Homo sapiens: one gene and its partners. The protein of the gene in region 3 purifies or fractionates together with the protein of the main gene of each other region. This does not show direct contact. Each region holds a gene or a part of one and is shown on either strand. Other genes may lie near its edges.

Region 1 (3,750 bases), on a different chromosome or scaffold from region 3:
GACAAGGGCCATTGATAACGCAGCCTGGATGGGGTTGCTCAGCCTGACCAGCGCCGCCGCCGCCCAGCCCACATGGGACGTGGGTTGCTGCTTCCAGCTCTTGTTCCGGATTTCTTTTCTTTTCTTTTTTTTTTTTTTAAGACAAAGTCTTGCTCTGTCGCCAGGCTGGAGTGCAGTGGCGCCAGCTCACTGCAATCTCCACCTCCTGGATTCAAGTGATTCTTCTGCCTCAGCCTCTCAAGTAGCTGGGACTACAGGTGTGCACCACCACACCCAGCTAATTTTTGTATTTTTATTAGAGATAGGGTTTCACCTAATCTTGATCTCTTGACCTCGTGAACTGCCCACCTCAGCCTCCCAAAGTGCTGGGATTACAGGCGTGAGCCACCGCGACTGGCCTCTTGGTCCGGATTTCTGTCTGAGTGAGGACGCTCCTGTTTGCACATAACAGAAGCCCTTAGAGTTTGGTGTTTGGGGGCAGTTGTTAAGGAGTCTGCGTTGTCTCAGGGAGTCCAAGGTAAAAGGAATGAGCTGGGGCCATGGCTGGGTGTGGTGGCTCACACCTGTAATCCCAGCACTTTAGGAGGCTCAGGTGGGAGGAGGGTTGAGCCCAGGAGTTCAAGACCAGCCTGGGCAACACATTGACACACTGTCTCTACAAAAAATTTTTAAAATAGCCTGGTGTGGTGGTGCTCACCTGGAGGTGCGCCACCTACTTGGGAGGCGGAGGGAGGATCACTTGAGCCCTGAGGCTGCAGTGAGCCATGATGGTACCACTGCACTCCAGCCTGGGTGATAGAGCAAGACCCTGGCTCACAAGAAAGGAAGGAAGGACAGACAGAAGGCAGAGCTGGGCCGTGGGCTCTGTTGGGTGCCACTGTCCCCGGGCCTCCTGCTACATCTGCCTCGCTCCCGTCCTGGCTTGCTGCCAGCTGTCTCCAGCCTCCTTTGCTTTCCCAGCTGTCCCGCAGAGTAAGGCAGTGCCCAGAGCCTGCGTTTCTGTCCCCTCCCCTCCCAGGACTGGGTGGGCCGAGGCTAGAGGTTTAGCCCTGTTTCTAGCCCCGTTTAGCCTCGTTTCTGTTTGTATATTTTTAAAATTCTATTTTTTTAAGAGACAGGATCTCACTATGTTGGCCAGGCTGGTCTTGAACTCCAAGTCTCAAGTGGTCCTCCTGCCTCAGCCTCTGAAAGTGCGGAGATACAGGTGTGAGTCACCACATCCGGCCCCACAGCCCCGTTTCTGGAGTGGCAGTGCAGGATTCTCGTCTACCTCATAACCATGGGGGTTAAGAAGGTGGGGAGGAGAAAAAAACTAAAAAAAACGAGGCGGGAACTGAATGGGCAAAATCAAAGGTGTCTGTGGCACACTGACGTCACCATCACTGTCACTCTGTCGTCACCACGATTGCCAGAGCCACCCTCGACTCACGTTCTCTTACATCTAAAATCGTTCCTGTCTGGCCTCTTTTTCAGCTGTGAAGGCTGCTTTCCTGGCGCAGGCCCCGAGTGGCAGCCGGTCAGCCGAGGTGCAGGCAGCTCAGAGCACGGAGCCTGCCGCAGAGGCAGGCGCTCCCGAGGGAGAGGGCCACAGAGGGGGGCCTCCCCGGGCGTTGGGGTCTCTTGGCCTTTGTGAAAACCAGGAAGCCAGAGAGAGGCCCGGAGGTTCCCCTCGAGGCCCGGTCACTTCTGAGAAAACTGGAGGACAGAGTGGCCTCGAGTCAGACGTCCCTCCGAACGCAGGCCCCGGCGCAGAGGGCGGGGGCAGCTGGAAGGGGCGGCCTTTCCCGTGCGGCGCCTGTGGCCGCAGCTTCAAGTGCTCCTCGGACGCGGCAAAGCACCGGAGCATCCACTCGGGGGAGAAACCGTACGAGTGCAGCGACTGCGGGAAGGCCTTCATCCACAGCTCGCACGTGGTCCGGCACCAGCGGGCGCACAGCGGGGAGAGGCCCTACGCGTGCGCCGAGTGCGGCAAGGCCTTCGGCCAGAGCTTCAACCTCCTCCGGCACCAGCGCGTGCACACGGGCGAGAAGCCCTACGCGTGCGCCGACTGCGGCAAGGCCTTCGGCCAGAGGTCGGACGCCGCCAAGCACCGCCGCACCCACACCGGGGAGAGGCTGTACGCGTGCGGCGAGTGCGGGAAGCGCTTCCTGCACAGCTCGAACGTGGTCCGGCACCGGCGGACCCACCACGGGGAGAACCCGTACGAGTGCCGGGAGTGCGGCCAGGCCTTCAGCCAGAGCTCCAACCTCCTCCAGCACCAGCGCGTGCACACGGGGGAGCGGCCCTTCGCCTGCCAGGACTGCGGCCGCGCCTTCAGCCGCAGCTCCTTCCTCCGCGAGCACCGCCGCATCCACACCGGGGAGAAGCCCCACCAGTGCGGCCACTGCGGGCGCGCGTTCCGGGCGCTGTCGGGCTTCTTCCGGCACCAGCGACTCCACACGGGCGAGAAGCCGTTCCGCTGCACCGAGTGCGGCCGCGCCTTCCGCCTGAGCTTCCACCTCATCCAGCACCGGCGGGTGCATGGCGCCGAGTGAGCCGGGGCTGCGGCGGAAGAGATGCCGGCGGCCTGGTGGGCGCGAGGCCGAGGCCGGGGGAGGCTCCTGTCCGCCCCGTGCGCGGTGAGGAAGTAACAGCCGGCTGCGCGCCTGGTTCTCGGGTTGCGAAAGCCTCGCCAGGCCTGCATCCGCCTTGGCTTGGGAGCAATCAGGAGAGACAGGGCTCGGGGAAGGCGAGCGCTGCCCGCGGGAGGCGATTCCCAGAGGCGGGGAGGTCTCAGGGGTCTGTCCCGGGCCGGCCGCCCGCCTCTGAGACTCCCCGCCTCCCACGGTCAGCTGCTGCGGGGCAGTGGCCGGTGATTGAATCGGTCATTCCTCCGCAACCAGGCCTCCATCAAAACCCTGCATGAGATGAGGGCCTCGGGCTTCGGGTTGGTGAAGGCGGGGTGGGGGGGCAGTTAGGAAGGGGGCGCCCAGACAGGGCATGGAAGCCTCGCGTCCTCCCCCGTACCTTGCGGGTCGGTGGTTCATCCATGTATTTCAACGCCTTTTCACAGCCGGTTCATATGGTCCCGACTTCTGTGTGCTTAGAAAATTATGGAACTTGGCCGGGTGCGGTGGCTCCCGCCTGTAATCCTAGCACTTTGGGAGGCCGAGGCGGGCGGATCACACGGTCAAGAGATCAAGACCATCCTGGCCAACATGGCAAAACCCCCATCTCGACTAAAAATACAAAAAATTAATTGGGCGTGGTGGCGTGCGCCTGTAATCTCAGCTACTTGGGAGCCTGGGGCAGGAGAATCACTTGAACCTGGGAGGCGGAGGTTGCAGTGAGCGGAGATCTGGGCACTGTACTTTAGCCTGGGCGACAGAGAGACCCATCTCAAAAAAAAAATTGGAACCTGAGAAGGGGGTCGTGGGGTCCCCGGGGCCCACCGTCTGCACTTGGCATCTGAAGTCGGGGTGGTCTTGTGGGACTGACCCCTTACCCTGTGGGTTCTGCACTAGCTCCGGGCAATTGGTGACAGAATCGAGTTAAATTGTAGGACATCGCGTTGGTGTCTGAGAGGGAGTTGGAGAGCTGGTTGGTGTGGAGGGAAAGGCTTACACACATGTGATTTCAGAAGCGTTCTGTGGGTAGAGGAATCGTTTTCTCTTTGAGACTGTTATGAGTATGTACAAATGTTATTTCCTGTAAAATATTTTCATTTTTTAAAATGTTATTTTCTAGATAGAAAAGTAGAAGTGTCTCTTT
Region 2 (3,750 bases), on a different chromosome or scaffold from region 3:
TATACTGTGACCCAGTTTGTGCATATATATATATATATAAAATTAAAAGTTTCACAAAACAATCCTCAACCCTACTAGATGTGATAGTATTCTTTCTTTTTGATTTCATTAAGAAAAATGTTACTCATGACCTACTGCACTAATTTCACAATCTATAACTTGAAAAATACTAATTTAGAATAACTGCTAAATAAATGGAATAAGTTAATGAAAAAGAAAAAACTCACTTGATTATAAAAATTCTGGGCTGGGTGCTATGGCTCATTCTCATATTTTGGAAGACCAGGGCAGTAGGATCGCTTGAGCCCAGGAGTTCGAGACCAGCATGGGCAACAAAGTGAGACCCTGTCTCTACAAAAAAATCAAATTTAGCTTGGTGAGGTGGTGCATGCCTGGGGTCCCAGTGACACAGGAAGCTTAGGCAGGATACTCACTTGAGCCCAGGAGGTTGAGGCTGCAGTGACCCATGTTTGCACCACTGCATTCTAGCCTGGGTGACAGAGCAATACCCTATCTCAAAAAATTAAAATGAAAAATAAAGATTCTGGCTGGACGCAGTGGCTCACGCCTGTAATCCCAGCACTTTGGGAGGCTGAGACAGGCAGATCACAAGGTCAGGAGTTCGAGATCAGCCTGGTCAATATGCTGAAACCCCGTCTCTAGTAAAAATACAAAAATTAGCTGGGTGTGGTGGCACGCACCTATAGTCCCAGCTACTTGGGAGGCTAAGCCAGAAGAATCACCTGAACCTGCGAGGCAGAGGTTGTAGTGAGCCAAGATTGCGCCACCGCACTCCAGCCTGGGTGACAGAGTGAGACTCCATCTCAAAAATAAATAAATAATAAAGAAAAATTTAAAAAAAGATTCTAATATGTTATTTTAAAATAATAAACACAAAAGTTATTTCACTCTATAGTCCAACCTTTCTAGAGATTGGATTCTTTATGGCAAAACTGTGTTGCCTTGGTCATTCATCCACATGGCTTACTACTGGAGATCCCACTGAGTGAATGATACAATGGTCAAAGAAACTCCATACCTTAATATTAGAAAACCATAAATCATTTTCATGTAACGTGGCAAGGTAGACAGATGTAAGAAGTCCAATGCAAAGGGCAATGGTTCCACCAATTGTCAATGACAAAATCTTCCATAATCTTCTACTGGTACAACCTTTTGGAAAAATGGAACAGATAAATAACTAAGTCAGTAAAAAAATCAGAATGTAATAGTTCTACTTCAGATTATCAAGTAAGCTAAGTCTAGCTGCCTGTCACTGGGAAAGCTTTTCCTGTCTCCAGCGGAGGGTCCTTTCTGATTCCACAGACCTGTTTTCATTCTATTACAACTGTTACCCCGTATCTAACTGTCCATGTGTCCATTCTGCCAACTACAACGTGAGCTTCTTGAAGACAAATACATTATCTTATTCATGTTTAATACTGAGGGCCTCTGTCCGGCACAGTTTAACAACCGTAATTTAACTATGAAGTCTGTTAAATGGATGACTAAATGTGTTACGTGTCTAGGACGTAATCGATCTTTTAGATAATCTAGGTACAATTGGTGGCTTATTCTTTAAAAGCTATTTTAAAAACTTGATTACCTAAAAAATAATTATTGTTTTTTGAGACAGGATCTTGTTCTGTTGCCCAAGATGGAATGCAGTAGTGCAATCTCGGTTCACTGCAACCTCTGCCTCCTAGGTTCAAGCAATTCTCCCACCTCAGCCTCCTGAGTAGCTGGGACTACAGGCACATGCCACCATGCCTGGCTAATTTTTGTATTTTTAGTAGATACAGGGTTTCACCATGTTGGCCAGGCTGGTCTTGAACTCCTGACCTCAAGTGATTCACCCACCCAAGCTGGGATCCTAAAGTGCTGGGATTACGGGCATGAGCCACTGCACCTGGCCGATTACCTAAAACTTTTTTTTTAAACCCACAGGTTTTGCAGGAATGCTCTGGGGGGAAAAACCCACAGAATAAATAATCCAACATAACTCAAGTTAAAGGACATATAAACTAGGCAAAATATGGATAGCACATATAAGAAAGCTTAAATACCCTTAACATAAGATGAATACTTTCAGGACAATTTATTTTATTTCAGGACAATTTATTGTCCTGTCAAGATGAATACTGCAGTAGGAAAAAGATTAAGGACATGAACAGGCAATGTACAATAGAAAAAAGTGGCCAATAATAATAACAGACTGAAGATGTTTAAATTCATTAATGTTAAAGAAATGCAAATCAAAACTGTGAGTTATACTTAAATCTTGGCCAATTTGACAGCTTTCAAAATGCTAATACTGTTTTGGTAAGGGTATAAAAAATAGACATCTTCAAACATTGCTGCTAGAAGAATAAATTGGTGCCTCTCTGGAATGCAACATGGCAGCAGTGAGTAAAAGCCACCAAAATGAGCATCCCATTTGGCCAGTAATTCCCAATCTAGGCATGTACCCTGCTGTGGTTTGACTATTCGGCCCCTCCAAATCTCATGATGAAATGTGATTCCCAATGTTGGAGGTGGGGCCTAATGGGAGGTGGTGTGGTGATGGAACCAGAGCCCTTATAAACAGGTTGGTGAGATTCTAGCAGTACTGAGTTTTCATTCTGTTAGTCCTAGGGGAGCTGGTTGGTTAAAAAAGAGCCTGACATCCTGTGTTCCCTGGAAATTGCTTCTACTCTGGTCATGTGATCTCTACACACTGGCTCCCCTAAGTCTTCTGCCACGACTGGAAGCTTCCTGAGGTCTCACTAGAGGCAGATGCTGGTGCCATGCTTCTCATACAGTCTGCAGAACCCTGAGGCAAAGAAACCTCTTTTCTTTATAAATCACCTAGCCTCAAGTATTCCTTTATAGCAACAGAAATGGACTAAGACATGCCCCAAGGAAATAAAGTTTTAAACAAACATATGGCCACAAGGAAATTGATCACAGTTCTGTCTGTATTAGCAAATGGTAAGAAAACCTTTCACTTCTACAGTGGCAGCTATAAAAATACTTTACATAGATGATATTTCAAAAATACGTTAACTGGCTTATGACATGTTCATAACATAATAAGAGAAAAATAGCAAGCTACAAAACAGCACGTGGATCCCAATTTTGCAAAACTGTATACGAATGCTTATGGGTATACATGTGCAGAATATGACATTAAGACAGCAAGACAGTGCCACTGGTGTTAGTTTCAGGATGGGAGTATATTTCTTTTTCTTTGCATTGTTTAAGGTGTTCAGAAAGTACTATTATCCAAAACGTGTTAATCACTCGCTAATGGCTGAGCCAGGTGTCATGACCTCCCATTACAGATTACTTTTGTTAAACTGTTTCCCTGAATTGCTTTACTAGCCTGGCTGGTAAGAATTAACATGGCTGTAAATAATGTAAATTCTGTCAGATATCCAAAATGGTTAATGGGTATGAAGATTTTCATGTTAACTTTTAAAATCCTGACCATGCTTTAGTTACAAAAGCTACTCAGGAAGCAAGAAGTTGGTAATTAATGCTATCTGATGCATCACTTAGCAAGTCTTTACCATTATACAAACAACTGACCAAGTTCTGATTACTTTTCCCACCAATAAAAGAAAAAAAAAAAAAAGCAAAAGAAAACTTCAGGAATTTGACTAATTATAAAGAATTTTTAAAAAATGTTGATCCACCTTTCACTACCTTAATGGAAACTCACCCAAGGTAAGGTTGCCTGGTGTAAATAGTATACACGACCAGAAAAAT
Region 3 (3,750 bases):
ATGGAGCTCTTAAGAGGGTTTAATGACAGGAGCGAACACTTGGCCATGAGCTTAGAACAGTACCTGCATGCAGTAAGCACCACAGAACGGTGTTAGAATACACAGCTCAGGTACAGCCTTGGCAGGCTCTTCCCACCTCCCCACCTCATCAGCCCACACTGCCGGGTACGTCGCAGTCCCCTAAGGACAGCTGTGTGGGGCTGGCCCTGCAGAGGCCAGCCAAGAACAGGATGGTAAATGCGAAAGTTCTGGATGCCCAGCTTCATAAGGACAGGTTAGAAAAACTAAATCAAACTCCTTTGACGAAACCAGATCCTACTGTCTCTGCCTTGAGGTAGATTCTTACAAGAGCAGGAGGCTAACAAAGCATCCCCTGCTGCGGATTGTCAAAGGACAGTGAGGCTCCATCCCACAGGAAGGATGAGCAGCCAGGCTACCTGGCCTCAGCCCATCCAGGGACACCGGGCATGCATGGATGGAGCCACGGATGAGCCAGTGCCGCTCACCCCTGCCCCAGCCTCTGCACGCCACACATCCACGTTTATGCTTGTGTTTTTCCAAAAGAAAGATTTCGGTGCCTGTCTGCAGCAGAATGTAGTTTGAATTTGCAAAGGTCTTTTAAAACTCTTTTCGTATGAACAATCAAAGTAAAAGATAGCTTTGCAGAGAGCTAATTGTTTACCGGCCGTCCACCACCAACAGCAGTCTGATTAAACACCAGACTCCTGGGTGCTCAGCTCCCAGTCCTGGGCAGCCAAACCCACCTTCCTTAAGTGGTAGCCAGGCAACCTGCCAGCTCGCTTTTCATATGCAAACTGCCCCAAGACTGTTAAAAGTCGCTGTGTGTCCCGGCAGTCACAGGATTTTCCATAGACTTACCACAAATACTCTCTAGTTATGTTCAAAACCACTTTTCAGCTGCTAATAATGTTAACAATCAGAGTCTCTCTTTAATCTACTAATAATGTTAACAATCAGAGTCTCTCTTTAATCTACTAATAATGTTAACGATCAGAGTCTCTCTCTAATCTACTAATAATGATGTTAACAATCAGAGTCTCTCTCTAATCTCCAGTTACTTTTCAGATATTCCGGGAGTTGTTTCTAATTCTCTCCTCAATAACAAACTCTCATGTGGAATCTTCTTCTTCGGAAACTGAAAACATAAAGCGTTTACCCGGGTTCCCAGGCAGGTATATACATTGAAATAGCAGCAGCCACAACCCTCAGAGAGGAAGGGGTGCCCGGCTGGTGAAAGCACAGCCACGGAGGAAAAGCTGAGGAGCGGCCACGTGCCTTGCTCTTCAAGCGGGCAGTAGAAACACCACGTGAAGAAACACTTGCCATTTAGTGTTAATAGATACACCACCCACCTTAAGTTAAGAATCGAAATTGCTCCTTTTTCTTCTCCGCTTCTTAGAGTTCGAGAACTCTAATTTCTTAAAATTAGAGCACCATTAAATAATTGATTGAGTTTAAGAAATAATCGTACCTGGTTTGCCAAAAAGATGCAGTGATGACTGGTTTCAGTGTTCCGGACCGAGTCAGAAAGGCGCAGGCTCTGCTGGAGCGAGAGACCGGCCCTGCAGTGCAGGATGCTCCGGTGGACGTGGCCGAGCGGCTCCCGGGCAGCGCGGCTTTATATGCCGCTTCTCCTGTGCAGGGCTGTCAATCAGACACACGAGGAAGCACGTTTAATTCATTCCTTCGAAGGAATGACATCATCCCCCTTCTGATCTCACCATTTGCTCCGAGTACCTGCTGCAGGGGTCCAAGTCCAGCCCCTCTGTACTGGATGCCGTCTCCTCCTCCTGCACCCCGGCCCCTGCCAGACAGGCCTGGGAGGAGCCAGACGGAGAGAGGGAAGGCAGGGACTCACTTTTCCTGTCTTCTCTCAGGAAATAAGATGCTATAAATAACACTAGCAAGATTGGCTAGAACTCCTCATTTTGCTTAAGAGAAAAAAATGCAAGTTCTATGCCTTAAATATGTTTCGAATTACTCAATGTGATATTGGTCTTTCTAAACCAAATGAGTGACTCTCAATAACACATGAAATACATCGGTGAGTATCAATAATCAGTCTGTATATTAATAAAGTTATTATGGTCAATAATCAAGTGTATTATGTGACAAAAATGAAATTTAATATAAAAGGAAGTTGCCAACATTTATCTCAGGCAGTTAGAGGACTGAAAAGCTGTACTGCAGCTTTGGGAAAATTCATTTTTACCCAAATTCTGCTTCATTTGCTCAGTGAGGATCCCCTAGAAGGACGTCTCCCAGTGGACGTGCAATACCCGTAGAAGGGTGTGTCCCAGTGGACGTACAGTACCCGGCCAAGTCCCCTTGGTGCACACTTGCACGTGGCCCCATCACAGGAACAACCTGACGTGCAGGCACAGAGCAAGGACTCGAGAGAACGAGAAGCAGTGGCAGCAGCTAACCCCCGCCCCTCCCACACCTCAGGCATCACCCGCAATCAGGGTGCACTCTGCATGGGGGTGGGGGGCACCGCTTCTCAGAGGTCAGGGTGGACGATGGATGCGGAGGGGCTGCTTCTCCCAGGTCAGGGTATACAGTGGAAAGGGGAAGCTGCTGCTCTAAGGTGGGGGTTGATGGTACATGGGGGAGGGGCTGCTTCTCCCAAGTTGGGCTGGACAGTGGATGGGGGAGGTGCCACTTCTCCCAGGCCAGTGTGAAAGGTGGATGGTGGAGAGGCTGTTTCTCCCAGGTCAGTGTGCAAGGTGGCTGGGGATGTGTTGTTTCTCCCAGGTCAGGGTTAATGGCAGACAGGGGAGCTGCTGCTTCTCCTGGGTTGGGGTGGACCTTGGATGGGGGAGGTGCTACTTCCCCAGGTGGGGTGGATGGTGACTGGGGAGCTGCTGCTTTGCCCGGAGCCACCTGCACCTGCTTCATGTCGGCACCTGCCTGTCAGGTTCCTTCACGTTTGTGTGGAGTTGTCAGCCTGGCCATGGATCCGTCAAGTCCTAGTTAGAGAACATTAAAGCGAATTTCTGTGGACACAACCCTTACTGTGTCTGTGGCAGGGGAGTGTCTCTTAAGCCTCCTGGCATTCCCCCACAGGGGTCCAGCGCTGCAGAGGTCGGCAGGCACCATGAAGAGCAAGCCTCACTTTCTGGCCTCTGTCTTCAGGGAGGATATGCGAGCGGGTGTGGGAGAGGGAAGGAGCTTTCATTTGTGAAAACCTCTGTTTTTCCTAATGGCACCTGTTTATTTATCACTTGGCAAACATCAGTTTCCGACACATGCACAGACAAAAGCCTCCAAGAGTGTATGTGTCATGTTTAAGGTACGTTATTTTGCTTTTTAAGCTATTAGGGACAAAGTCATCATTTGAATTAAAAAGTAGTTTAAATAGATTGATGTTATCTCAAATTCAAAAAAAGTATAAACCAGTTCCCCTTAAAGAATTTTCAGTGGATAATTATCCATTCATCAGTTTGAGTTTTTCTGCCTCCAGGTTAGTTTTTCCTGGGGCCAGAACATGGAGGGCGGCATCCCCTACTCTGCGTGCCACGGCCTCTCCTGTTCCTCAGTCCACAGAATGCGTGTTTCCTGATTAAAGCTGAAGACAGGCAGCTCAGCTGCTCAGCACTTCAGGAGCATGCGGTGAAGACCGTGACACTCACTGGGGAGCAGGAAGGTATGTATTCATGACTCCACGTGCCGATGGGCAGGTACAGAGAAGATGGGCCTCCTTCTGTAAAATCTGGCAGCCCAGAATCA

What was found.
Region 1: the proteins of THBS2 (region 3) and ZNF696 purify together in Homo sapiens (affinity purification with mass spectrometry; 2 studies listed by BioGRID and IntAct, with this or other methods). This does not show direct contact.
Region 2: the proteins of THBS2 (region 3) and DPY19L3 purify together in Homo sapiens (affinity purification with mass spectrometry; 2 studies listed by BioGRID and IntAct, with this or other methods). This does not show direct contact.

The regions. Positions count from the first base shown.
Region 1 is NC_000008.11:143,294,267-143,298,016, forward strand, and holds part of ZNF696 (zinc finger protein 696), read left to right. Parts: intron 1-1,473; coding exon 1,474-2,534; 3' UTR 2,535-3,750.
Region 2 is NC_000019.10:32,408,662-32,412,411, reverse strand, and holds part of DPY19L3 (protein C-mannosyl-transferase DPY19L3), read right to left. Parts: intron 1,174-3,750; coding exon 1,040-1,173; intron 1-1,039. UniProt on the Homo sapiens protein: C-mannosyltransferase that mediates C-mannosylation of tryptophan residues on target proteins.
Region 3 is NC_000006.12:169,252,232-169,255,981, forward strand, and holds the start of THBS2 (thrombospondin-2 isoform 1 precursor), read right to left. Parts: upstream 1,616-3,750; 5' UTR 1,493-1,615; intron 1-1,492. UniProt on the Homo sapiens protein: Adhesive glycoprotein that mediates cell-to-cell and cell-to-matrix interactions. Ligand for CD36 mediating antiangiogenic properties.